Linked DNA regions of Homo sapiens. The protein of the gene in region 2 purifies or fractionates together with the protein of the main gene of each other region. This does not show direct contact. Each region holds a gene or a part of one and is shown on either strand. Other genes may lie near its edges.

Evidence for each region.
Region 1: the proteins of RDH11 (region 2) and ESYT1 purify together in Homo sapiens (affinity purification with mass spectrometry; 2 studies listed by BioGRID and IntAct, with this or other methods). This does not show direct contact.

Annotation. Positions count from the first base shown.
Region 1 is NC_000012.12:56,132,435-56,145,530, reverse strand, and holds the end of ESYT1 (extended synaptotagmin-1), read right to left. Parts: coding exon 12,934-13,096; intron 12,813-12,933; coding exon 12,730-12,812; intron 12,115-12,729; coding exon 12,066-12,114; intron 11,944-12,065; coding exon 11,857-11,943; intron 11,751-11,856; coding exon 11,658-11,750; intron 11,452-11,657; coding exon of another isoform or gene 11,422-11,451; coding exon 11,350-11,421; intron 11,190-11,349; coding exon 11,103-11,189; intron 8,788-11,102; coding exon 8,638-8,787; intron 8,314-8,637; coding exon 8,158-8,313; intron 8,033-8,157; coding exon 7,856-8,032; intron 7,700-7,855; coding exon 7,617-7,699; intron 7,506-7,616; coding exon 7,457-7,505; intron 7,349-7,456; coding exon 7,259-7,348; intron 7,128-7,258; coding exon 7,032-7,127; intron 6,764-7,031; coding exon 6,692-6,763; intron 6,605-6,691; coding exon 6,518-6,604; intron 3,247-6,517; coding exon 3,106-3,246; intron 2,954-3,105; coding exon 2,799-2,953; intron 2,697-2,798; coding exon 2,598-2,696; intron 2,515-2,597; coding exon 2,383-2,514; and 9 more. UniProt on the Homo sapiens protein: Binds calcium (via the C2 domains) and translocates to sites of contact between the endoplasmic reticulum and the cell membrane in response to increased cytosolic calcium levels.
Region 2 is NC_000014.9:67,678,812-67,693,809, reverse strand, and holds part of RDH11 (retinol dehydrogenase 11), read left to right. Parts: intron 1-757; coding exon 758-876; intron 877-1,216; coding exon 1,217-1,372; intron 1,373-2,565; coding exon 2,566-2,670; intron 2,671-3,388; coding exon 3,389-3,598; intron 3,599-8,605; coding exon 8,606-8,795; intron 8,796-14,998. UniProt on the Homo sapiens protein: Retinol dehydrogenase with a clear preference for NADP. Displays high activity towards 9-cis, 11-cis and all-trans-retinol, and to a lesser extent on 13-cis-retinol.

The DNA.
Region 1 (13,096 bases), on a different chromosome or scaffold from region 2:
TACTTTGATGGGAAGGAAGTGGAGATGGTAGAGGAACCAGCAGTGAATACAAAAGGGTCACTGAGAACATAGAGGCTGAGTTTGTGGACAGTGTGGAGTTTAAATTCAGTTTTTGCTAATTAAGCAAATTTCGACAACTTGTGGAACTGAGCAGGAATCCTTTCCCCTGAGTCTTCCCTCTTCTCCCAGTGGGCAGCATCCTAAGGAAGGTTTATATTTTTCAAGAGACGATAGTAAAGTCTCTCTGAGTCAGTTATGAAATCCCCAAGTTCCTATGCCAGTGACCCTGTTTTCAGTAGTTCACTCTGTCCATCTCTCTCCTTTCAATTGGCAGAACAGATGGAGCACAGCTTCTCTAGCTTGCATTCCAGGAAAGTTCTTGCAAGGAGCAGAGTTCAAGGTGTACAGATGATCGAAATGGGTGTATTTCTCAGCTCCTGCTAGATGGGCCTGAAGCCCTTTTGAATGTAGCTGAGCATGCCCTGACAGCACAGAGACACCAGGAGCCTGTGCAGTGGCACAGAGACACCAGGAGCCTGTGCAGTGGCACAGAGCTCCCAGGTTTACCAGGTTTAGGAATCCCTTCCCTGGAAAGCCTATAGTGGTCAGCAGACAAGTTGGATGGGTAACAGAGTTCATCACTGTGACTGGAAATGAGTCTCACCTGAAATGCAACAGCAGCTACTTTACACAGGTCTCTTGACCATCCTCAACATTCTTGGTGGCTGCAACCTTAGTAGGCTTTGACCATTAATTAAACTGACATGATTCACGAATTGGATAAAGGCTTTTGACAGTAGGAATAAACATCAGATGGGTAGATTGATTCCCTATCCTTAAGGAAAAGAACCACAGCTGGTTTGAGTATGATGTTTAATGTAAGATCCAGTGGCTTGGCAGAGTTGGTGCAAAACTGTAAAGTACCAGATTAAGTTCTAGTCAGTGAGTTAGCAGCCTAGGCACTTGGGCAAAAAAATTGGCCCTGCTGTCCCAAGTCCTCCAAAGCCCTCTCCGTATCACCAGCTAGGAGCTCCAAGACTGATATGCCACTACTTGGAGGCTTGAGTAGAATCCACGCGTCCTCAGTTTCCAAAGTGACAAGAGACTGGCCCCAGCCATCAAAGCAGTAGAATTTTCAGGACAGGGTTGAGGACAGTGGGGACAGAACTGGACATGGGGGCCTGAGCTGCTGAACATTTGCTACATGCAGTAGTCTAAGAGGCTCACAGCTGGAGAGGTTAGCCTGTCCACCTTCCCACCCATGTGTGGTAGGGAAGAAGGTGACCATCTAGTTAAAGAAAAAAAGATCCTTCCAAAGCTGTATTTGGCATAAGCTAATACCACTGCTAGTGCTGCCACTGGCCAGGCACAGATACAGAAGGCCCTGAGGAGTTGGGAGGAAGGGAGAACAATGTGCAGGCAAAGCAGGAAACAGCCAGCTCAGGTCCCCGCCCCAGGGGCCCAGAAGGATAAAGGCCGTGCAGTAAAGGGAACATACGGTTCTTCTCTTTGGTCAGGCAAAGGCCCGAATATGGGCCTGTTAGGTGAAAGGGCTGAAGGGCACAGGCTCTGCCCTTGGACCCTAGCTTTAGGCTCATCACATTGAGGCGGTGATGGAGCGAGACGAAGGCAGGAAGACAGAGCAGTCAGGCTGGGACTCGCCAGCTCCTAGGAGCTGCCCTTGTCCTTGTTGTCCATCAGGTCATACCTGTGAAAAGAGGGCTCATGTAGAAAGATGACTCTTGTGTCATCATATTTATAAATGAGACACGATCCAAGGGCTTCTCTACTTGATAGAATCAATGGTTCTCTGCTCAGATTGTATCTTTTTTTCCTTTCCTGTGATTGGAATTTCTCCCACTGAAATATCCAGACCATCCCCCACCCACGCAGACACTCACCACCGGGCTACACCCTGGGAAAGGTCTGTCTCAGCTAGGTCCAGCTGCACCTGTGTTGGAAGATGATAGGGGAAAGATGTTATTTCTTTTATTTTTTGAGACAGGATCTCATTCTGATGATGCTGTTTTGAAATCTCCAAAGACCATGTTCCTTCATCACATACTCGTCCCAAACCATTGCAGAGGTGAGTCACCTCTAAAGGATCACGTGGGGTACTTCCTTCCTCACAGGGACTATAACCTTGGTGCCAGCAGCTTCCAGCCCTCACCTCTGCCCTGCCATCCTGCCCTCTTACCTTCCCCAGCAGCTCACGCTCTCTTGACATGAAGGAGGAATTAGACTTGACAGAGACATCCAGCTTTCGTCTCTGGGCCTCATCCAGGGGGAGTTCCCACTCAAACCTGGGGTAGGACTGGATGTTAGGGGCCAGGAGTCCTTTCCAAGCCTGCCATCTCTCCACCTGAATGCCCACTGACTGACCGTTCATTAAATTCAGGACTCAGGGTCCTCTTCTTCTGTGAGGTCCTCCTCTTGGTGCCTCGGTTCTTGTCTGGCAGTAGCAACAGTGACACATAGGGATCAGGAGGATCACGTCCATTCTGTCGAAGGGACCTACAACAGGAGGATGTAGGTGATATGGTAACCTGAGGGAAGGGATGGAGGCGATCTGGAGGACAGGAGGGATGGGGTCTCACCGGCAACCATGAACAATGCTGACCAGCTTTCGTTCTTCACTGTAGTACCACAGAGTCAGTTTCACCTGGCCCAGAGGCCCGGCTGGAGCCTCAAGGGGACTGTGGAGAAATATCAGTAGGTCTGGGGAAAGCTAGAGCCTAGTGAACCTGTAATACTTTTTATTTCTGACTGCGTCCCACCTTCCTGTCCCAGCCCTTTACCTGTCAACATGTGTTAGGCGCTGCCGGAGCTCTGGGGCTGAGGAGGTGATGTGAGGGGGTCCCCCCGAGAGCTCTGGTTCTTCACTCAGCGATGAGGAGCTGTGGCTGTAGCTGTGGCTATGAGCTTCCACTCCCGAGTGCTGGGACACCAGGATCTAGGGGCAAGAAAGCTGTGAGCTGGGCAGAGTTCTCTCAGTTCCCTCACTCTAAGGACACGGCCCTCTGTTCCCACCCTCCTGGGTGTCCCTCACCTGTGAAGGCCCTCCCCTCCTCCCTCTCATCCTGCCCACCATCTCCTGTCACTCACCCCTAGCTGTGCTCTCAGTAGCACCTGCCCCTGACCACTGCTGAGTGTAAACCAGCGGTCCAAGCAGAGCTGGTCAGCCACGAGGAGCTCTGAGAGGGGCAGGGATAATGAGCCCAGCACGCCAGTGCCCTCACCCCGAACCTGTGGGGCAACAGGACCATGATCAAGAGGCGAATGCATCAACAAATGAGTTAATCCTGGTGTTTTAAAGGTCCAAACGCTTGGACTCATAGGTGGTTTGGTGAGATTTCCCTTTGAGAAAGGCAGGGAAGCCATGGTAACAGTTGCTAGTCCCTCCCTCTGTCCTTCCTTCCTTTTTTTTTTTTTTGAGACAGAGTTTCGCTCTTGTTGCCCAGGCTGGAGTGCATGGCGTGATCTGGTCTCACCGCAACCTCCGCCTCCCAGGTTCAAGCGATTCTCCTGCCTCAACCTCCTGAGTAGCTGGGATTACAGGCACCTGCCACCACGCCCAGCCAATTTTGTATTTTTAGTAGAGCTGGGGTTTCTCCATGTTGGTCAGGCTGGTCTCAAACTCCCAACCTCAGGTGATCCACCCACCTCAGCCTCCCAAATTGCTAGGATTACAGGTGTGAGCCACTGTGTCTGGCCTGTCCTTCCTTTCTTAACCAGAGTAGAGTGGACCATCTTTACCTCATAAACTTTCAGAAATTATTATTATTATTTTTGAGACGGAGTCTCGCTCTGTTGCCCAGGCTGGAGTGCAGTGGCGCAATCTCAGCTCACTGCAAGCTCCGCCTCCTGGGTTCACGCCATTCTCCTGCCTCAGCCTCCCAAGTAGCTGGGACTACAGGTGTCCGCCACCACACCCGGCTAATTTTTTGTATTTTTAATAGAGACAGGGTTTCACCGTGTTAGCCAGGATGGTCTCGATCTCCTGACCTTGTGATCTGCCCGCCTTGGCCTCCCAAAGTGCTGGGATTACAGGCGTGAGCCACCGCGCCCAACCTAGCTTTCAGAAATTATACCAGTAATACCTACAGCATACAGAAAACAACAGTAAAAACAGAACTAAAAGTAAATGTTTCTTGCCCATCCTACTCCTATTGCCATATTCCAAATGTAACAACCTTTAAAACCCTCCTGTTTTCTTTGTTCTCACGGAATTCTAATATGCTTGTATCTATTGATTCCCTGCTATAAAAGATGAAGAACTGAGCTCATTTGTACCTCCTTTCTACTCTGCTAGCATTAAGTTACATTATTTTAAATTCTATTAATTTCAGCCGGGCACAGTGGTTCACACCTGTAAGATGGCTCATGGCCATCTTTTGTCTCCTCACTCTCCACGCTGCCTAAGAGATCTCACCCATGACTACACTTATGAGTGGTTGCTTGCTCATGATGTTCCAATAAGAGGGCAAGGGAGGAACACCTCATGGACAATAGATTTGTTTTCTGCATGTCTTCTCTTGGATGTCCTGCAGAGATCTCAAATTCCAAAATTCCCTCTCTGTGCACTCCCTAAGTCAGCAACGGCACCCTTATCCATCTAGCCACCCTGTGCCAAAAACCCCAGAGTTAGTGTCTAGGCTGTTCCTTGCTCCTCCACCTGCTCCATATCACAGCAATCTTCAAATCCCATCAGGCTTTAGTCGTTTCCTGCTTTGACTGCTCTAACAGTCTCCTCACTGATCTCCCTGCCCCCAGTGTTGTCCCTCTCCAGTCCATTCTTTACCCTCTTATCCCTATGATCTTCCCAAAATGCAAATCTGGATATGTGACCTCTCATTAAAGGCTTCCCTGACTGGGTGTGGTGGCTGACGCCTGTAATTCCAGCACTTTGGGAGGCCGAGGCAGTGGATCACTTGAGGTCAGGACTTAGAGACCAGCCTGACCAACATGGTGAAACCCCGTCTCTCTTAAAAATACAAAAATTAGCTGGGCGTGGTGGCGGGCACCTATAATCCCATCTACTCGGGAGGCTGAGGCAGGAGAATCGATTGAACCCAGGAGGGAGGTTGCAGTGAGCTGAGATCGTATCACTGTACTCCAGCCTGGGCAACAGAGCAAGACTCTGTTTCAAAAAAATAATAAATAAAATAAACAAAGGCTTCCCTAAGCCTTAGGATAAAATCCATATTTCTAGCATACTATTCAACAGCTCCTATGATCTTGCTCTGCCTGCCTCTCTGATCTATAATAAATATGCCTTCTCTCTCCTCCATTTTTTTTCTCAGCCTAAAGAGTTTTCCTGCTCTTCTTTTCGTGGTCCGAAAGAACCAGTAAATCTACCCTTAGGCTGGGGCGCGGTTCTCACGCTTGTAATCCCAGCACTTTGGGATGCCGAGGCGGGCAGAATGCTTGAGTCCAGGAGTTCGAGACCAGCCTGGATGACATGGTAAAACCTCATCTCCACAAAAAAATACAAAAATTAGCTAGGTGTGGTAGTGTGCACCTGTTATCCCAGCTGAGGTAGGAGGATTGCTAGAGCCCAAGAGTTGAGGCTGTAGTGAGCCCTGATTGCACCACGGCACTCCAGCCTGGGCGACAGAGTAAGACCCTGTCTAAAAAAAAAAAGGCCGGGTGCAGTGGCTCACACCTATAATCCCAGCACTTTGGGAGGCTGAGGTGGATGGATAACCTGAGGTCAGGAGTTCAAGACCAGCCTGGCCAACATGGCAAAACCCCGTCTCTACTAAAAATTGGTGGGGTATGGTGGCACGCGCATGTAATCCCAGGTACGCGGGAGGCTGAGGCAGGAGAATCGCTTGAACCTGGAAGGCTGAGGTTGCAGTGAGCTGAGATTGCGCCACTGCACTCTAGCCTGGGCAATAAGAGTGAGACTCTAGTCTCAAAAAAAAAAAAAAAAAATCTACCCTCAAGCTCAGGGGTCATCTAAGGATGCCTTTCTATCTCCAGCCTTTCCCCAGCCTGAACCCTTCCTTTCTTCCCCACAGTGCCTTTTACCTCAGTTATCATTCTGAAAGTTTCATCTGGTTATTTTTCTCCCAAAACAGAGTGTGAGCTCCATAAAGATAAGAAGTCAATCTTTTGGCCGGGTGCGGTGGCTCACACCTGTATTTCCAGCACTTTGGGAGGCCGAGGTGGGCGGATCACCTGAGGTCAGGAGTTCGAGACCAGCCTGGCTAACATGGTGAAACTCCATCTCTACTAAAAAAAATGCAAAAATTAGCCAGGTGTGGTGGCGGGCACCTGTAGTCCCAGCTACTTGGGAGGCTGAGGCAGGAGAATGGTGTGAACCCAGGAGGCGGAGCTTGCAGTGAGCCAAGATAGCACCACTGCACTCCAGCCTGGGCGACAGAGCAAGACTCTGTCTCAAAAAAAAAAAAAAAAGTCAACCTTTTATCTCATCTCTGAATGCTCTGTGCCTGGTTTCCTGCCTGGCCATGGCAGAAATCTGCTAAATATTTGAAGAATGAATTTACAGTACCTGCAACTCTAGGCTCTCAGTGTGTGGTTTCCTGATGAGAAAGGAGGCACTCTCATCCCAGACAGGGGCTGAAGTTTGCGAAATAGTCTGGTGGAGATGAGGGCTTATGATCAGTAGCTGATACTCTTATTTCTCTTATCCCTCCCATTTTTACCCTGCAGCATTTCTTCATACCTTGGTTTTATGAGAACTATCTCCCACAGTGAGAGTAGCATAAGGGCTGAGGTGCTTGGTGCCTTTTCGCAGCTAGAAAGACAATACTGTGTTAGTCTTAAATTTGGACCTAGTTAGGCAGATCCCCCTCACAAATTATATCCACAGCCAGCAGCCATGTCTCCATTATTACTTGGCAGCCACTACCCGTGGCCTTGAACAGACAACTTTTCCCACCCCTGCACTACCCTCAGAAAGAGAGGGGCCATTTTTCTTATTCTAAATACTCCAGGACCATCCAAACCGGAGGAAGGTGGAAGAAGGGCCAGGAAGTTATGGGGCATGGGGAGCGGGATCTCACCGGGAGGTCCTCTGCCCGCTCCATATAGATGGATAGCAGGGCCGCAGCCAGCTCCGCACTCTTCTGAGTCTGGATCAAACTATTCACCTGCAGCACCTGTGGAGGGGCACACGGGGCTGGGGAGTGGTAACTGACACCTTGGGTTCTGGCATGTGCCTTGAACGCTAAGAGAAGAGCTCATCCTGCCCCACCTTGGGTCCCTTCCTTCCTCAAGTCTCCTGCCCTACCTCCTCTAACTCAGCAGCAGTGGGACGGGGGGTGAGACGCTCCAGGCGCAAGTGCAGGCGGCCAGATGGGACATCCTCCAGGGTCAGCCACTGTGGAAGTAGGCAGGGTGAAGACTTGGGGATATGCAGACAGGAGAACTTTGAGAATGAAGCTTGGGCAGGATCAGGAGGGGTTGTTGACTCTAATTCAATGCTCACCTCATCAAGGAAGCCACTGTTTAAGACTGTGGTGAGACGCACTTTACACCTGTTGAAGAGAAAGATTAAGACAAAAGCTAGATGGTGAGAACCAAGGAGGCCAGACTCCATGGCCTAAAGAGCCCCAGCCTGTTTTTCACGTAGACTCCTATGCTCTCACCTGCCCAGAAAATCATCCTTGTCCAAGTCCTTGTCAAAGACTTCAACCTCTAGCTCTTGGCCTGGAACTGATGTGACGATCACCTAGTGGGAGAAAATAGTGCAGATGAAAGATTCTCTCCTTTTCCTCTGCAAATGACTGGACCCCCCAGTCAACTGAACCTCAGAGGTTTCTGGACCACTTTTGGGATTGGGGGAAAAATGGGGCAGAACCAGGAGTCACAGCCACTCAATTCTGACCTCAAAAACCTCATTCCAGCGGGGATTGAGATCTTCCCGAACAACATGGCTCCGGAAGCTTCGTCCTGCCAACTTTAGTTTGACATAGGGGTCTGACTTGCCCTTCACCAGTCCCCCCAAGAAACGGTCTTTGGCAATCAGGTCCTGGGCCTCTAATACATGGATCCGAAGCACATGCTGCAAAAGGGACGGGGGGGTGCCAGATGGCAAAGGGAGAGAGACCTGTCAGAATCTGCCCTGAAACAGGCTTTGCATACTTAGCGGGGCAAACAGACCCTAGTCCTTTCCAGATATAGACTCACCTCAGTCCCAAACTGGCTATCAGGAGTCGTGTGACAGGGTCGAGGTGGGGCATCCACACTGCTGCCTCTCTGGGGATTCTCACTGTCCACGTCCCAAGCACCAGGACAACCAGGCACCGTGGGGAAGCATATTTCTGATGAATCCAAGTACAGGATCTAGGAAGGGTAGTATGATGCTGAATCAAAGAAGTGCAGCTCGTCACCAGCAGGCAAAGCATGTGGGGTGGGGTAGAGGAGGGGCTGTGACAGGGGAACTAGGTGCTGCCCTGGCTGGGCTCATCTCTACAGGGTTCCCTCCACACCCCCTCAACTCATAAGCCATTCCTTCCACCAGTCAGATCAATATATGTTTTTGTGCCTGCTTGGCACTTCTACATGTATTAGCTCTTTTAATCTTAGGGGGGTCCCTTTCCTTACTCTTAATACCAAAGAATCAACAGGCCTTTCCCCCACACCTCAGTACCTCCTCTATTTCCATACCCTCATGACTAGTTTCATATAGAGTCTGGAGTTTGGACCAGAGCTGCTGAGCTGGAACCACTGGTCCAGGATGAGTTCTGGGGCAGTCAGCAGGCGGGCCAGAGGCAGCGTCAGTGCTCCTAAAGTCAGGGCCCTGGAATCATCCTTCACCTACAGGCACAGGAGGAAGGACTGTAGTGAAGGGATTAGGGGAAAGGGAGGCATACTGTGAAAATGATAACATGGCTCCAACTTCATTCCTCTCTGTACCAATCACAAACCTCCTGCTCCACTCAGGGCCATCTTTTTTTTTTTTTTTTTTTTGAGACAGAGTCTCACTCTGTCGCCCATGCTGGAGTGCAATGGCGCCATCTTGGCTCACTGCAACTTCGACCTCCTGGGTTCAACCCATTCTCCTACCTCAGCCTCCCAAATAGCTGGGACTACAGGCGCATGCCGTCACGCCCAGCTAAATTTTTGTATTTTTTAGTAGAGACAGGGTTTCATGGTGTTCCCCAGGCTGGTCTCAAACTCCTGAGCTCAGGCAATCCGCCCACCTCGGCCAGAGCCATCTTTTATAGTCCTCTGCCCAATCCATGGCCCCTTCCACCTTTGTTCATTCTGCTCCCACTATTTGGAAAGTCCTCATTCTCTTCCCTCGGCCTATTTAAATCCTACTCATCCTTCAAGACTCAATTAAAATCCAATTTTTTGCTTCACAAAATCTCCCTAGTTACTCCAGCCTATCCCTTTCTCTGACCCTCCTTAGTCCTATACTATGGATATTTTACTCCCACAAATTCATATGTAATTGTTGCTATTCTTCTGTTCCTTTTTTTTTTTTTTTTTTTTTTGGAGACAGAGTCTTGCTCTGTCACCCAGGCTAGAGTGCAGTGCTTGAAATCAGCTCACTACAACTTCTACCTCCCGGGTTCAAATGATTCTTCTGCCTCAGCCTCCCAAGTAGCTGGGATTACTGACACATGCCACCACACCTGGCAAATTTTTGATTTTTTTTTTTTTTTTGAGACGGAGTCTCACTCTGTCACCCAGGCTGGAGTGCAGTGACGCTATCTTGGCTCACTGCAACCTCCGCCTCCCGGACTCAAGCAATTCTACCTCAGCCTCCCAAGTAGCTGGGATTACAGGCACGCACCACCATGCCTGGCTAATTTTTGTATTTTTAGTAGAGATAGGGTTTCACCATGCTGACCAGGCTATTCTCAAACTCCTGACCTCAGGTGATCCACCTGCCTTGGCCTCCCAAAGTGCTAGGATTACAGGTGTGAGCCACCATGCCTGGCCTTAGTTCATATGTACTTGTTCTTGAATGATTTTATATGTGTATGTCTTGTCTATGAAACTGAAACTGGCCAGTGAGTATTGTGAAGGCAGATACTATGTTTTGTGCTTTTTCTATGACCTTTAAAATGCTGAATGTTGGGCCGGGCACGGTGGCTCACGCCTGTAATCCAAGCACTTTGGGAGGCTGAGACGGGCGGATCACCTGAGGTTGGGAGTTCGAGACCAGCCTGACCAACATGGAGAAACCCCGTCTCTACTAAAAATACAAAAAAAATTAGCCAGGCATGGTGGCACATCCCTGTAATCCCAGCTACTCAGGAGGCTGAGGCAGGAGAATCACTTGAACCCAGGAGGTGGAGGTTGCGGTGAGCCGAGACCACGCCATTGCACTCCAGCCTGGGCAACAAAAGCGAAACTGTCTCAAAAAAAAAAAATGCTGAATGTTAGCAATTTTATTGAGGCATAATTTACATACCATAAAATCACTCATTTTAGGTACCGTGCCCAGCCTCAGAATAATTTTTGTATACCTAAAATGAGTGATTCTATGGTATGTAAATTATGCCTCAATAAAATTGTTAACATTCAGCATTTTAAAGGTCATGGAGAAAGCACGAAACATAGCATCTGCTTTCACAATGCTTACTGGCCAGTTTCATAGACAAGACACACATATATAAAATCATTCAAGAACAAGTACCTATGAACTAAGGCCAGGTGCAGTGGCTCATGCCTATAATCCCAGCACTTTGGGAGGCTGAGGCAGGCGGATCATCTGAGGTCAGGAGTTCGAGACCAGCCTGGCCAGCATGGTGAAACCCTGTCTCTACTAAAAATACAAAAATTAGCCGGGCATGGTGGTGCCTGCCTGTAATCCCAGCTACTCGGGAGGCTGAGGCAGGAGAATTGCTTGAACCCAGGTGGTGGAGGTTTCGGTAAGCCGAGATCGCACCACTGCACCCCAGCCTGGGCAACAGAGCGAGACTCCATCTCAAAAAAAAAAAAAAATATTATTCTGGAGCGACAGTTGGGGAACAATGGAGAGATATTCAGGGAGGTGGGGAGTCTAGGTAGATGGATTAAAAATAGGAATCAAGGGAAAAGAAGGAGAGGAGAAATGGTACAGATCTGGGAAGTCAGAATAGGGTATTCGGGAGGGGATGAAGAGGTGATTATCTCACTTGCACATCGAGCTCCTGGCTTTGAGGGTCTTGTAGGAAGAACCGGAACGCTTCCTCCCACACTGGGCAGTTGGTACTGTAGACAGCCTGGAGATGTAGAGGAGGGATTAAGGGTGTATACCACAGCACCATTCCTGTTTCTGCAGAAAACCCCTGCATGTAACAGGCATTCTAAAGGGGAAACCATCCCAAGAATAGGCCTCTCCCTGTCCTACCTGGCCACCCACAATGATGTCCTGGCCCTCACCTTGCTCTCCTGAGTCACATCCTGAATTGACAGTTGTACCATAGGGTTGGGTTCCTTGTTCCCCTTCTTCAGCTGTGGTGGGTACAATTCAGAGGTCACCATCTTGGGGGATTCGGTTTTGGTTTTGGTGAAGGAAGGTGGGATCGCATCAGAATCCTTTCCCTGAGATGGATCTGATCCCCTCCCTGGGACCCTTATGTTACATGCTGATACTTCTGGAGCAAAGCAGGCAGGGACATTTGCATCCTCAGCAAGGCAGGGTTGGGGAATGTTACATCCAGGGCTCCTGTTCACCCAGCCAAACTCACAGGAAGATCCTGGGCCCGATCCAGGTAGACAACTAAGATGGCAGCTGACGGGGGATCTGGTCGAGAGGAGACTCCCCAATTCCACTGTAGAACCTGGGGAGGGGTGGTAGTAGTCAGATCTTGGTCCCCGTTCCAAGTCCCCTACACTTCCAGCTACCTATTTCTCCCCTGCCAGCTTCCTATTTCCCATGTGGCTTACCTGCTCCAGTTTCTCTGCATCTGACAAAAGTGACAGCCATTCTAGCCTCAAGTGAACTTGGCCTTGCCCACCTTGTAGAGGGAACCACTAGAAGAAATTGAGATGTAGTAGAGATCAGATACCTGCTCAACTACTTCCCTACCAATGTAGCAACTACTATCTACCCAAAGGGTGAGATCAGCCCCCACCTTCCTCTTCTCCCAACTTACATCATCCAGAACGCTAGCCTGTAACACCTTCCCTACATCCAGCTTCATTCTGAGGGTTGGCGGGGGAGAGGGTAGTGAAAGGAAGAAAAGGGTAGTGTTGTAATTAGCAGCATGTCAGTGGCCCTCCACTCACCCACCCAGAAATGACTGGCAGATCTCAGACTCCCTTATTCCTCTCAGAAGATATTCACCTGCATGCGTGAGTATGTGCATGGTAGGGGCTGGGGGTGGGGAGGTTAGGAAGGAAAATGATACATGATTCCCAGGCCCAGAAAGTGAGTATAATTACCTCCAGAACCTCGGTAGCATGGGCTTTATTTTTTTTATTTTTATTTTTTTTCTTTAGAGACAGAGTCTCGCTCTGTCGCCCAGGCTGGAGTGCAGTGGCGCGATCTCGGCTCACTGCAAACTCCTCCTCCCGGGTTCACCCACCATTCTCCTGCCTCAGCCTCCCGAGTAGCTGGGAGTACAGGCGCCCGCCACCACACCCGGCTAATTTTTGTATTTTTAGTAGAGATGGGGTTTCACCGTGTTAGCCAGGATGGTCTCAATCTCCTGACCTCGTGATCCGCCCGCCTCAGCCTCCCAAAGTGCTGGGATTACAGGCATGAGCCACCGTGCCTGGCCAGCATGGGCTTTAGAATCCTAACAGGCAGAGTCTCACCTGCCCAGAAAGTCATCTTTATCTGGATCCTTGTCGAACACCTCCACTTCAATCTCCTGCCCTGGGACCTCGTGTACCATCACCTGGGGAACACAGAAGGCTGAGTGTCTCATGGGGCTGCAGCTGTGAGGATCATCCAATCAGCATCTTCTCTCACAACCTCCTGGGGCTTCCCCATTTCACAGAGCTGCTCAACTCTCCCACCTCATAAGTCTCTCCCCACTGTGGGTTGAGTTCTTCATCAATGACACGACTGCAGAATGTCTGGGTACCCAAACGCACAAGTGCATATGGGTCTGACTTGCCCTCAATCAGGCCCTTCACATATTTGTCCTTGGAACTCAGCCCTCGAGCAGCCAGCAGGTGA
Region 2 (14,998 bases):
GCGTGGTGGCGCATGGGTGAGGGGGTGAGGGATGAGAATCGCTTGAACCTGGGAGATGGGGGTTGCAGTGGAGGTGGAGGTTGCAGTGAGCCGAGATCACACCATTGCACTCCAGCCTGGGCAACAAGAGCAAAACTCTGTCTCAAAAAAAAAAAAAAGAGAAAGAGAAAGAAAGAAACAAGGACTCTAATTACACAAAGCAAGACTTGAATCCCAGCTCCCCTTTGTACATACATAATCTTCTCTTTGTTTTAAGTGTGTATGTGCATGCGTGTGGGTGTGTTTTTTTTTTCTTGTTTATTTTGTCCCAGAGTCACAAGCTTTCATAATTTTAACTTTTTGTATTGGATTAGCCATTTCTCAAGGCCATAAAATGCCAGTTGTGGACAGATTGACCTACAGAAACTAGTTATTTCTTCTTCTGGGCTGAATCTTGTGATTTCCTAAGTCACAAGTGCCTTAGAGAGCTCAAACCAAAGCCAGGTGCCTGGCTAAGCAGGTATTCATCCAGTTCTTGTGCTGCAGAGAACAGCTGTAAGCTTTGCCCTTGTAATAGAATCACTTTTGTCTTTGAGCAAAAGCAGAAAACTTTTGTCATCTTTCCTCCAACTTTCCTTAAATGGACACTGTTTCCTTAAAAGGACAACAGTGGAAAGAACTAAAGCAAACCTCAGCCAGAAGACACAGGGAGTTGCAGGAACCTACTGGCTGAGACAGTAGAATGAAGAATTGATGAGCTCTCCTTCTCTGTCTGCAGGAAAATGCTGTCCAGTGGGGTGTGTACATCAACTGTTCAGCTTCCTGGGAAAGTAGTTGTGGTCACAGGAGCTAATACAGGTATCGGGAAGGAGACAGCCAAAGAGCTGGCTCAGAGAGGCAAGTTCACCTCCTTTCAATTCCCTCCTATTACTGCTGTTTTACCCCTCACAGTAATGATGATTCATTCTCATTGTTTCTTCCCAGTTTTGGAATTCAAGAACACCTAAGGATTCCACTGATTTGCTGATCTGAAACTAGTACTATGCTCTACATATAATGGACCCTTAATGAATATTATTAATTTATTTTTCTTTACCTATTTGCTAATCAGATACCTCTGTTGTGAAGAAAGGGTAAAAATGTGTGTTTTTTAAAAAAATGTTGGAAATAACATTAGATTTATAATGCCAGCTCAAAAACAGAGCTGACCATTTCTCTTTCATATGTTGGCTGACAGGAGCTCGAGTATATTTAGCTTGCCGGGATGTGGAAAAGGGGGAATTGGTGGCCAAAGAGATCCAGACCACGACAGGGAACCAGCAGGTGTTGGTGCGGAAACTGGACCTGTCTGATACTAAGTCTATTCGAGCTTTTGCTAAGGGCTTCTTAGCTGGTAAGTGTAGAACTAGAGAGACTATGTTGTGGGTCTTGAGGTCAACATGGCAGATTCAACTAAAAGGAAAAGGTCCCTCTTCCTCATAGAAGTGGTGGATAAAATATAGCCAAAAACTTCTGTAGCTGAACTCATAGTCACTGGGACACAATTTATGTCAAAGGGATATCTTCCAGAGGCAGAAACAAAAAATGAATTCAAAACGTCATAGCAGTGAGTAAGAGCTGAAGCCAGAAATCTCATGGGAGTCTCAGCACTCAGTACAGGCTTTTTAGGGTCTGGGGTCTAAATACTTACACAGGGATAGGAGATGAGGCCACAGGCCTTTGAGAGCTGGAGCTGTATTTGAGGTTCTACACAAAGTTGAGATTCACAAAGGGCCATCTGGTCCATAGTATAGAAGCTAATAAAAATCCTGGCCACCAGCTCAGAGACATGACAAAGAAGTTTACCATCTCTTTAGACATAGATGGATACTTACCTGCAAAAAATTAGAACCCGAGCTGGCATCATGTGTGGGGTCTGAATTCGTACCACCAAATGATATGAGGATATTTATGGGTTTGATTTTTGTATGTGTGTGTAATACTCTATGGAAAATTAACGTAAAAACCTGTAGTGTCTCATCAAAAGCAAATCCAAGAGCACTCTATAGGCATATCCCCTTATAGCCCAGGGATCTAGGCCTCCAAGGAAAAAGCTTTCACTGGTGTGAACTCATAGTCATAAATTACAAACCACATGAGGAAATGAACCATGAGAGAGAATTGGAAGATGCAATAAAGAGGTGAAGCCAGTATTTATTTCTTTGGGGACCTGAATCCCAGGGCAGAGGTACATAGAGAACATTCTTTTTTCTCTTGCTTTGGAATCTTTCCATTCAGCTTGGGAAGTCTTTTTATTGAGAGAGGTGGATGCAACAATTCCCAAAAGCAGTGAGTAAGTAGCTCCTGAACTACAAGGATCTGGAAGGTCATTTGGTAGTATAAAATGGAATTCTGCCCCATAGTAAAAGTAGGTGGGATTCAACTAAAGTCTTAAAATGAAAAACAATAGAAAATAAATATGAAGGAAAAATGGAGGGAAGATTGAAGTCCTGCATCCTCATTTTCAAAGCCTGAGCGTGAGGCAGCTTTCTAAGATGTAATAGCCTTGGCTAGCCACTTCCACGCTCCATCGTCTTGTCCCTGCAGAGGAAAAGCACCTCCACGTTTTGATCAACAATGCAGGAGTGATGATGTGTCCGTACTCGAAGACAGCAGATGGCTTTGAGATGCACATAGGAGTCAACCACTTGGGTAAGAAATCTGGCCTTATCACAAAGCTAGAGAGACCCAAAATTCTCTTTGGGAAACTTAGGGGTCAGATTGAGGCTTCTTGTTGTGTGATTGAACCTCAGGACCATAATAGACCATGTGTGCATAATAGTTTGGTCCTACCTGATAGCTGAGGAATACCTGAGGGCTGCTCCAGGTTCTGCCCGCTTTTTAATCTGTGATTTAGATTTGGTTTGCCTTGGCGCATTTTTTAACAGACTAATTGGTTTAGGGGACTGTGTTGCTTTCTTAGTAGTGATCCTTGTGGCCAGCATCAGGTATAGGTCATCTGCTCTTTTTTTGTAAAGACAGGGTCTTGCTATGTTGCCCAGGCTGTACTTAAACTCCTGGCCTCAGGCACCTTCCTGCCTCAGCCTCTTTAAGTGCTGAGATTACCGGCGTGAGCCACCGCACCCAGCCAACCAGCTCTTAAGAATGAGATTAACCAAAGTAGGAATGAGCTGGGACTTCATATTCACATAGTCTAGACCTATCTCGCTCATATAAGGATGCCTCATGTCTTTGGCTGTTGTTATTTCCCTAAACCTTCATTAAACTTGTTTTCTAGTTGATAATGAAAAGTTGGAGGGAAAGACCTTATTTCTGAATTATCTGCCTCCCATAGGTGAGGCCTGCTCACCACGACTCCTGTCATTCCTACATGGCCCTGAACTTCATTAATTCTAGTATTTCTCAACAGGTCACTTCCTCCTAACCCATCTGCTGCTAGAGAAACTAAAGGAATCAGCCCCATCAAGGATAGTAAATGTGTCTTCCCTCGCACATCACCTGGGAAGGATCCACTTCCATAACCTGCAGGGCGAGAAATTCTACAATGCAGGCCTGGCCTACTGTCACAGCAAGCTAGCCAACATCCTCTTCACCCAGGAACTGGCCCGGAGACTAAAAGGTGGGCCTAGAGGAAATGAATGTGGAGACATGAGTCAGAGAGAGGCAGGTAAAAGCCACAGGAATGGAAACTGTTTCCAGAGCCCATCACCTGGAGAGGACCTGCTTCCGTGGCTATAATTGGGTACAGTTTTAGTAAGTAGTCTACAACTGAATATTGGAGGTGGCTGGCTGGGACAGTGAGACTCTGACTTTGAGTCTGAAGGCCTGGCTTTACTACTTACTAGCTGTGTGATCTATAGCAAGTTACTTAACTTTTTTTTTTTTTGAGACGGGATCTTGCTCTGTCACCCATGCTGGAGTGCAATGGTGCAATCTCGGCTCACTGCCGACCTCCACTTCCCAGGTTCAAGTGATTCTCCTGCCTCAGCCTCCTGAGTAGCTGGGACTACAGGTGCGTGCCACCAGGCCTGGCTAATTTTTGTATTTTTAGTAGAGACAGGATTTCACCATGTTGGTCAGGGTGGTCTTGAACTCGTGACCTCAGGTGATCCACCCACCTTGGCCTCCCAGAGTGCTGGGATTTTAGGTGTGAGCCACCGCACCTGGCCATTACTTAACTTTTAGGACTTCCTTCTTCATATGTAAATGGGACTACTTCACAGTTTATTGTCATAATTAATTCAGGCTTCATAAGCAAGTCAAGATTTTTTACTCACAGTGAGACTGAGTATGAGGGAAGGACCTGAACTGGCACTAGATAAAGGCAGTAGACTAAAACAGGTACTGGGAATATGGAGGGGCAGGGTCTCCCTTGCAAAGCATCAAATAAGAGGGAAATATATGCTTGAGAAGGGGAATTTCCAGTCACAAATACACAGAGGTCCTTAGCACTGTCTACTCTGGATTTCTAATAAAGAGAAGGGAAATCGAGGGTGAACTGTGCTAGGAATTGAGGCAGGCAGAATGCAGGCTCAAGGAATCAGGCACAGGTGCCCTATAGTTGGAATAGGATCATCCTACCAAATGAACATCTGTGAGATGGGAAGGAAACTGGTGGTTAGCTCAGTCCTTATGCCCAGTCTGTGCCCAGGGCATGACATCTTTTATCAGTTTAGGATAGATAAGGGTAACTGGATGGTGAAAACTATCCAAAGAGTTGATCAGGGAGCTAGGGTGGCCTGGAGGTGGAAAGATGGGTCCAGTGGTGAGAATTCACTAATACATGAATGAGGTGACTCTGATAGTTGTGAGGATTCAGTGGAAAATCATTATGGTGCAGTAAAAGAACCCTGGTTTGACAGAAGATTCATTCATTCAGCCATTCAGCAGACACGTATTCAGTGCCCATGTTGTTCCGTGCACTGGGTTAGGGGACAGGGGATGAATTGGTGAACAAGATAGGTATAGTCTCTTCTTTGGTTTGGTTTACATCTAACGGGGGAGAAAGACAATTAGCAAGTCTTTATACAAACTATTAAATGTAAAATCAGTCTAGTAATGCATGAATAATTCTCATTGTAAAAAGCTCAAATAAGGTCAGGCACAGTGGCTCACACCTTTAATCCCAGGCACTTTAGGAGGCCAAAACCGGAGGATCACTTGAGGCCAGTTCAAGATCAGCCTGGGCAAAATAGTGAGACCTCATCTCCTCTACCAAAAAAAAAAAAAAAAGAGTTCAAAGCATATGGAAGTATGTAGAATTAAGGTGAAAAACCACCTTCATTTATTCCCCTCTTCCCCCTGCTCTTCTCCCTTCATATGACCATTATCAACAGCTTGTGTGCCCCTTTCCAATAATTTTCCTATGCATTTACATATGTATGTATCATGCACAAGGAACTGAAACTCCAACACAGTATCTTGGAGATCTTTCCATTTAGTACATATGGATTTACCCCTTAATTGTATTGGCTGTGTTGTATTTCGTAGTATAGATGTGCCTTAGTGTATTTATGTATTTCCTTAACAACATCTGGATTGTTTCCTTTTTGTTGTGGCTGTTTAATTATAATTGTGATAAATGTTATAAAGGAGAAGTACCAGGACTTACAATGGATTTTAGTGGGAGTCTTGGGGGGACCTTATTCAGTCTGAGGGTTCAGGGAAGACTTTCCTGAAGAAGTGAGTTGCATGCTGAGCCCCGAAGGATGATTAGAAATTAAATGGATTAGAGGTACTGATAGAATGTGGAGGCTGAGGCCGGGCGCGGTGGCTCACACCTGTAATCCCAGCACTTTGGGAGGCCGAGGCTGGTGGATCACCTGAGGTCAGGAGTTCGAGAACATCCTGGCCAACTTGGTGAAAGCCCTGTCTCTACTAAAAATACAAAAATTAGCCAGGTGTGGTGGCGGGCGCCTGTAATCCTAGCTACTGGAGAGGCTGAGGCAGGAGAATCGCCTGAACCTGGGACAGAGTTTGCAGTGAGCCAAGATCATGCCATTGCACTCCAGCCTGGGCGTCACGAGTAAAACTCTGTCTGAAAAAATGAAAAAAAAAAAGGGCCGGACGTGGTGGCTCATGCTTGTAATCCCAGCAATTTGGGAGGCTGAGGTGGGTAGATCACCTGAGGTCAGGAGTTCAAGACCAGCCTGACCAACATGGAGAAACCCCATCTCTACTAAAAATACAAAATTAGCCGGGCATGTTGGCGTGTGCCTGTAGTCCCAGCTGCTCAGGAGGCTGAGGCAGGAGAATTGCTTGAACCTGGGAGGCAGAGGTTGTGGTGAGCTGAGATCATACCATTGCACCCCAGCCTGGGCAAACAAGAGTGAAACTCCATCTCAAAAAAAAAAAAAAAAAAAAGGAATATGGAGGCTGAGAAACATTCCAGGCAGAAGGAGGAGAATGTACAAAGGTCCGGGCTCAGTTTGAGAAACAGCGAAGGTTACCATTGGTAGGTTGTAGAAAGCAAGAGTAATAAAGATCTGAGCTGAGACTGGTGAGGTAGGTAGATGCCAAACCCTTAGAGGCCACAGTAAGGATTTTAGTGTTTATTCTAAGAGCAATGGGAAACGGTTAAAATTAAAGCCTTTTCAAAATGGGGGCAAGAGGGGTTGCAGCAGTTGATTTCATCAGCAGAGGTGAGAAATGAGGGTAGTTTGGACTAGGTGGTGGAATTGGAGGGTAGTAGAAACTTCTGAGAGAGATTTGGTTTGGGAAAGCTTGTTGACTGGAGATGCATGCTTTAGGTGGGCATTCATCAGAACCCTTTTGCCTGATTGGGCATGTCGGGAACACTGCAAGAACCAGGTTTGGCTTTAAAAGTAGAAATCAATTTGGGACCTCTGAGTCTGCATTACTATGGGTCATCTAGGGAGATGTCGAGTAGGCAGTTGGGAATAATACAGCTGTGTCTGCAGCTGTCAGTCCACAAAGACCAGAAAAATTCTGTTTCTTCAAAGCTTTACACCAAAACTCATTTGGCAGCAAAACATTTCCTGTACTAGGGAGATTAGATTAATAGGCAGTGTATGTATACATTTCATATTACCTTTCTACAATCAGAGAAAAAAATTGAAGTATGTCTGGCCCCAGCGTTTTCCATAAAGGATTGGGGGCCTGAAATAGCATGTGCAAAAGTATCATTTAGCACTTACCATGCATCAGGCACTTTTTTTTTTTTTTTTTTTTTGCACCGGTGTCTCACTCTGTCGCCCAGGCTGGAGTGCAGTGGCACGATATCGGCTCACTACAACCTCTGTCTCCCTGGTTCAAGTCATTCTCCTGCCTCAGCCTCCCAAGTAGCTGGGATTACAGGTGCACGCCACCATGCCCGGCCAATTTTTTCTATTTTAGTAGAGACGGGGTTTCACTGTGTTGCCCAGGCTGGTCTATAACTCCTGAGCTCAGGCAGTCCACCTGCCTTGGCCTCCCAAAATGCTAGGCTTATAGGTGTGAGCCACCACGCCCAGCTGCATCAGGCACTCTTTTAAGACCTTTAACATATATGAACTCATTTAATCCTCATAACTACCCTGTGAGGTTGTAAGTATTATGATTATTCCCATTTTAGAGATGAAGAAATGAGTCACAAAAGGGAACTTGCCCAAGGTTACACAGCTAATGAGTGGAGCCAGGATTTGAAACTGGGCAGTCTGTCTACAAAATCCATGCCCATAACCACCACATTGTGTTGACTCCCAGTGTGTCTGCAGTTCAGAGGAGCAGTTTGGACTGTGGACAAAATGTGAGCACCATAGAATTATGGAGAGGGAGTCTGGTGAGCCACGAGAACTCCAACATTTAATGTTTGTGTAGAAGATGATGAACTGGTCCAGAAAACTGAGACAGAGCAGCCAGAAAGGTTAGGAAAACCAGAAGTGGCATAGGCTTATGGAAGCCAGTGAAAAAGAAGACTTTAAGAAGGGGATGGGCGCCTGTAATCCCAGCACTTTGGGAGGCCGAGGTGGGCAGATCACTTGAAGTCAGGAGTTCAAGACCAGTCTGGCCAACATGATGAAATCCCGTCTCCACTAAAAATACAAAAATTAGCCTGGTGTGGTGGCGCACCCCTGTAGTCCCAGCTACTTGGGAGGCTGAGGCAGGAGAATCGCTTGAACCTGGAAGGCAGTGGCAGAAGGAAGATCATGCCACTGCACTCCAGCCTGGGCAACACAGCAAGCCTGTCTCAAAAAAATGAAGGGGATGGGGTGGGTGTGGTGGCTCATGCCTGTAATCCTAATACTTTGGGAGGCCAAGGTGGGAAGATTGTTTGATGCCAGGAGTTCAAGACCAGCCTGGTCAACATAGGGAGACCCCATCTCTAAAAAAGAAGGGGGTGGTCAACGATGTTAAGTGCTGCTGAGAGGATGAGTCTTGGCTCTGCTGATTCCTGACTTGAGTTTCCAGTCAGAAATACACAGAGGTCCTTAGCACTGTCTACTCTAGAGCCTTCTTAGATCTGTGAGATGGAAGTATAAATTACTGTGAGCAGTACTTCTGATGTCACCATGGGCAAAAGAGTCCATATGTGAAGGTCACATGCTTATTTACATCCTTTTCTGTTTTGGGCTATTCTGCAAAATCAAGTCCTGTCTTACCCTCTCTTCATGCCACCCCCAACCAGGCTCTGGCGTTACGACGTATTCTGTACACCCTGGCACAGTCCAATCTGAACTGGTTCGGCACTCATCTTTCATGAGATGGATGTGGTGGCTTTTCTCCTTTTTCATCAAGACTCCTCAGCAGGGAGCCCAGACCAGCCTGCACTGTGCCTTAACAGAAGGTCTTGAGATTCTAAGTGGGAATCATTTCAGGTATGAATGTTATCTCTTTTTGCAGATGAGATTTATTGCTCAAAGGAGATAATTTGGGTTTGTCTGGGTATACCCTTTTTTAAAAGTACATTGTCTCATATAGCTTTTGTCTTTTAACTCTAGAGTTTTTACCTTTTAGTAGGGGAATTTGACTCTCTTTTGTAATAACTGCTACATTTGATTTTATGCCATCTTTTATACTGATAATTATGCATTCTGTTTGTTTTCTTCCTGTCTTTGTTATGTCAGTCCAGTTTTCTTTATTCTTTTTTGGATTCCTAATTCTATTGTTTTACATTAAAAAGAATTTAAAAAGAATTTGAGGCCAGGCGCAGTGGCTTACGCCTGTAATCTCAGCACTTTGGGAGGCCAAGGTGGGCAGATCACCTAAGGTCAGGTGAAACTCCGCCTCAAAAAAAAAAAAAAAGAATTTGAATCTGCATTTCTCTATTGTCCTCAGGATTGAAATACTATGGACTCCCCTCTCAAATAAGCGAAGACATTTAAAATGATTTAAATGTAGAGAATTTTGAATATAACACAGGGTTAGATAAAATAGTGCACTGAGCCTGCATATAATGGAGCCTCAGCTACCATTAACCCATGGCCAATTCTGCCCTATCCCCATTCTCTACCCCTTTCCATATTTTTCTTCTCCCATATTATTTTGAAGCAAATCCCAGGCATCACATAAGATCAAAATTTTAACATGTTTTTACCTCTACTTCAGGTTATTGTTGAAATGACCTGAAATTTTAAGGAAGTAGCTGAAAATAGCATTAAGATTGGAAAGAAAGGCAGACAGATTATGAGAGGCCTATAATGCCAGCCTTGTGGAGGAGCCCCAGAGTTGTTTCAGTAGACAGACAAAATCTGGTCTGTGCTTTAGCAACTTTGTTTCATGAATGAATAATTAACCTAGTGAGAGAGAGAGTTTCAGAAAGTTGTAATGAAAGGAATGGTAATGTGAAAGAGGCCCTGAAGCAGCAGAATTTTTATCACTGGATGATTAATTAAATGAGGGGATGAGGGAGGCTTTGCTAACCTGAATTTCAAGCCTGAATGAGGTTGATGATGACATTAACTAAGACAGCAGACATGGAAAAGTAATGTGTGGAACTTAGGGTTCTTGGATTCCAAAGCAGTTGAAAGGGACTTTGTCTAGCTTAAGCAAGAAGGAAATTTATTAAAATATTAGTAGGGAGAGGAGGGACCCCTAGGTTGAAAGGGAAGACTGAAGAGCCAGGCTAAGAAGTGTCAGAGTGGCAGTCAGCCAGCCGGGGCATTGCTGCTAGAGTGAGCGAATGCCAGCTATCTTTAGTGTTTAGGTTGTATTGCTTATCATCCATTCTCTAGGGAGGAAGCATTGGATCTCCTTCCTCCTATCCCTTCATTTTTACTCTTTTGATTAGAGGCAAACAGGGACTTTATTAATGCTCTCTTCAAACTATATTGAGGGGAAAAGGTGATTCTGCAGAAGGAAATCAGGTTGCTATTGCCGAAACAAAGTAGAATGTTCAGCCAAAGAGTAACAGTTGTCCACTGTGTAACAAACCTGGCTCTGTACATGTTGCATGTGTGTTATCTATAAGGCATGCAAGTAGAAATGTATAGCAGATAGTTGGAAATGTGGTTCTGAAGTATAAGAAGATAGATTTATATAGTATACTGGATTGATTTTCCAAGAGTGACTGGATTCTTCTTCCCTAGAGATTTTAAGAAAAAAAAAAATAACCCTTTATCTTGGTTTTGACTGAGTGGTTTAAAGAAAGTCAGCTCTAAATCCATAACTTACTATTGGATTGACTTTTGAAGAGCCTTTCCTGTGCTATGGATTCTTAATTCATTTTGAAGATCCAACAGCAGCCGTGTAGACCACCATCAAGAAATGAACATAAAAGTCTTTTGATTGAAGCCTTAAGATTTTTGCACTGGCTCTTCTTTCTGCCTGCAACCACTAGTCTGCTTTATGTCTCTAAGAATTTGCCTTTACTGGACATTTCATATAAATGGAATCATATGGTATGTGGCCTTTTGTGACTGACTTCTTTTACTCAGCTTAATGTTATCAAGGGTCATCCATGCTAAAGCATGTGTCAGTACTTCATTTCTTTTTATTGCTGGATAACATTTCATTGTATAGATTTGCCACATCTTATTTATTCATTCATCAGGTGATGGGCATTTGGGTTTGCACTTTTTAGCTATTTGAATAATACTGCTGTGACCATTTGTGTAGAAATTTTTGTGTGGACATTTCTCTTGGGTACATGGAAGTGGAATTTCTGGGTTATATGGTAACTGTGTTTAACTGCTGAGGAACTGCCAAACTTTTCCAAAATGACTGCCCCATTTTACATTCCCACCAGCAGTCTATGAGTATTCTAATTTCTTCACATCCTCAGCAACACTTGTTATTGTCTCTCCTTTTGAGTTTAGCCATCCTAGTGAGTATGAAGGAATATCTTGTTTTTATTTTCATTTCATTTTCCTACTAATGATGTTGAACATTCTTTCATGCGCTTTTTGGTTCATTTGTTTCTTTGTTGGGGAAATGTCTATCAAGTCCTTTGCCCATTTTTAAGTTGGATAATTGTCTTTTTATTGTTGAGTTACAAGAGTTCTTAATAGTCTAGATGCGAGTTCCTTGTCAGATATATAATTTGCAAATATTCTCTCATTCTGTGGGTTGTCTTTTAACTTTCTTAATGGTATCTTTTGAAATGTAAAACTTAAATTTTGATGAAGTCCAGTTTATCTATTTTTTGTCACTTGTGCAGTCATATCTAAGAAATCATTGCCTTACCCAAGGTCACAAAGATTTACTACTGTCTTTAGTAAAGACAGTTTTCTGTTACTAAACAGAATACCACAGACTGGGTAATTTCTAAAGAAATTTACTTAGCTCATGGTTCCGGAGGCTGAGAAGTCTAAGAACATGGTGCCTGGCATTTGGTTAGGGCCTTCTTGCTGTGTCATAATATGGCAGAGGGCATCACATGGTGAGAGGGCAAGCAAGAACAAACCCACTCCCATGATAGTGACATTAATCCAGGTATGAGGGCAAAGCTTTTATTAATTAATCTGTTCATGAAGGCAGAGGGACTAAGTTTCCAACATGTGATTTTTTAAGGGATACATTCAAACTATAGCAACCCCTATGTTTTCTTCTAATAGTCTTATAGTTGTAGCATTACATAGGTCTGTGATCTGTTTTGAACTATTTTTATTTTATTTTATAATTATTATTTTTTTGAGACGGAATCTTGCTCTGTGACCCAGGCTGCTCACTGCAACCTCCGCCTCCTGGGTTCAAGCAATTCTCCTGTCTCAGCCTCCCGAGTAGCTGGGACTACAGGTGCACACCACCATGCCTGGCTAATTTTTGTATTTTTAGTAGAGATGGGGTTTTGCCACGTAGGTCAGGCTGGTCTCCAACTCCTGACTTCAAGTGATCCCCCTCCTCGGCCTCCCAAAGTGCTGGGATTATAGGCATGAGCCACCACACCCGGCCTTGAACTAATTTTTGTATATGATATGAGGTAGGGGTCAACCTTCATTCTTTTGCATGTGGATATCCAGTGCCTTAGCACCATTTGTTGAAAAGACAGTTTTCTACCCATTGAATTGTCTTGGTATCTGTATTAGTCTGTTAAGGCTGCCATAGCAGAATCCCACAGACTGGGTGGCTTAAACAATATAAATTTATTTTCTCACACTTCTGGAGACTGAAAGTCCAAGATCAAGGTGCTGGCCTGGTTGGTCTCTGGTGAGGCCTGCCTTCCTGACTTCCAAATGGATGCCTTCTCTCTGAGCCCTCGCATGGCCTTTCCTCTATGTACACACACTCCTGGTGTCTCTTCCTCTTTTTATAAGGCCCTGTTGGATTAGGGCCCCGCCCTGATGACCTCATTTAACCTTAGTTACCTCCTTAAAGGCCCTCTCTCTAAATACAGTCACACTGGGGGTTAGGGATTCAACATATTAATTTTGGGGGAACACAATTGGAGTATAACAGTAAGCTTGTCAAAAATCAATTGACCATAAATATAAGGGTTTATGTTTCACTTTTCTGTTCCGTTCATTTGTATGTCTGTCCTTATGCCAGTATCACACTATCTTGATTACTATAGCATTGTAGTAAGTTTTGAAATTAGTTTATCTTTTACCTATACTAATTCTTAGCAAAATCCCCCTGGAAATGTCAATACTGTGACCATGCTGATGCCATAGGCACACTTAACTAGCTCTTACTTGGCTGGGCGCGGCGGCTCACGCCTGTAATCCCTGCACTTTGGGAGGCTGAGGTGGGCAAACTACTTGAGCCCAGGAGTTCAAGACCAGCCTAGGCAACATAATGAGACCCCATCTCTATAAAAAATGCAAAAATTAGCCAGGCGTGGTGGCGTGTCCCTGTGGTCCTGGCTACTTGGGAGGCTGAGATAGGAGGATCACCTGAGCCTGGGGAGGTTGTAGTGAGCTGCGATCACACCACTGCACTCCAGCCTGGGCAACAGTGAGACCCTGTCTAAAAAAAACAACCAGAAAGCTCTTGCTGTAGTATTTGATTAGTTTTTATAGCCTACAAGGAACCTTCATGTCAACTGTGTTCTTTGCTCTTAACTGTAACCTTATGAAGAGTATAAGGCACAGTGCAGTGGAGGATGCAGAGGCTTACAAAGGCTGAGTCATTTCCAGAGAGATACAGAGCCTTGTGGTTCTCACTGATGATCTTTTCACTAGGAAATGGCAAGTTGTACTGGTCATACTGGTGAGTCTTCTTAAACAGAAGTACTGATAAGACTTGTTTTGTAAACGTGACGATATTTTGAAATGGTATTTCTCAAACTTTAGTGTGTTCAAGAGTCATCTGGAAAACTAGTTGAAAATAGATTCCTGGACCACAACCCTAGAGATTCTCATTCAGTATGTCTGGAGTAGGGCTGGAGAATTTCTAACAAGCTCCCAGTTGATGCTCCTGCTGCTGGTTTGTGGTGCACACTTTGAATCCCACTGTCTTACTTGACATAGTGTTAAGAGTTTGCATATATAGTTAATTCAGACTTGTCAACTCTTTCACCTTCAGAATTTGCTTAGATACTGAGGAAGCAATTTTCTTGAAATAGTATACTTTTAAAAATTGTTTCCTCACATGACTAAAGATTGTAATACATTCAATCATTTTTTTTAAAACTTTGACTGAATGCTTACCAGATGTATACCAGATCCAGAGAATACAAAAATGAGTCAGAATTGTCCTTAAGAAAATTTTCTGCATCGGAATTATAAAATTATAAAACTTGGAATTACAGGCTGGGTGCAGTGGCTCATGCCTGTAATCCCAGCACTTTGGGAGGCCGAGGCAGGTGGATCACTTGAGGTCAGGAGTTCGAGACCAGCCTGGCCAACATGGCAAAACCCTGTCTCTACTAAAAATACAAAAATTAGCCAGTCATGGTGGCAGGCGCCTATAATCCCAGCTACTCTGGAGGCTGAGGCAGGAGAATTGCTCAAACCTGGGAGGCGGAGGTTGCAGTGAGCTGAGATCGCATCACTGCACTCCAGCCTGGGCGACAGAGTGAGACTCCGCCTCCAAAAAAAAAAAAAAAACTTGGAATTAATTACAGCAATGAAGAGAGGGTATATGAAACACTTTGCTATGATTTGAATGTGTCCCTCAAGGTTCATATGTTGGAAACTTAAGCCTCAATACAACAGTATAGAGAGGCAGGGCCTTTAAGAGGTAAATTAGGTCACAAGGGCAGCCCTCATGAATGGTTTAATGCCATTATCTCTGGAACGGGTTCATTATCTTGGGAGTGGTTCCTTATTAAAGGATGACTTGTGTCCCCTTCCCTCTCTTGCCCATGTCATGCCTTCCATCTTGTTATTACACAGCAAGAAGGCCTTCATCAGATGCCAGCCCCTTGATCTTGGACTTCTCAGCTTCCATAATCATAAGCCAGTTTCTGTATGCTCATTATAGTTACCCAGTTTGTCGTATTCTGTTACAGTACCACAAAATGGACCAAGACACCTCGTACCTTGGTTTTACCATTTCTTTTCTGTGTCGCCTTTTCCTTTTGTTGTTTTCGAAGCTGGCTTTACTTCTCATATGAGTTTACTAACAGTATAACTTCAAGGAGTCCAGAAATAAGCATTTCTTTTTTTTTTTTACTACTCCAGGCATCTCTGACCAATGT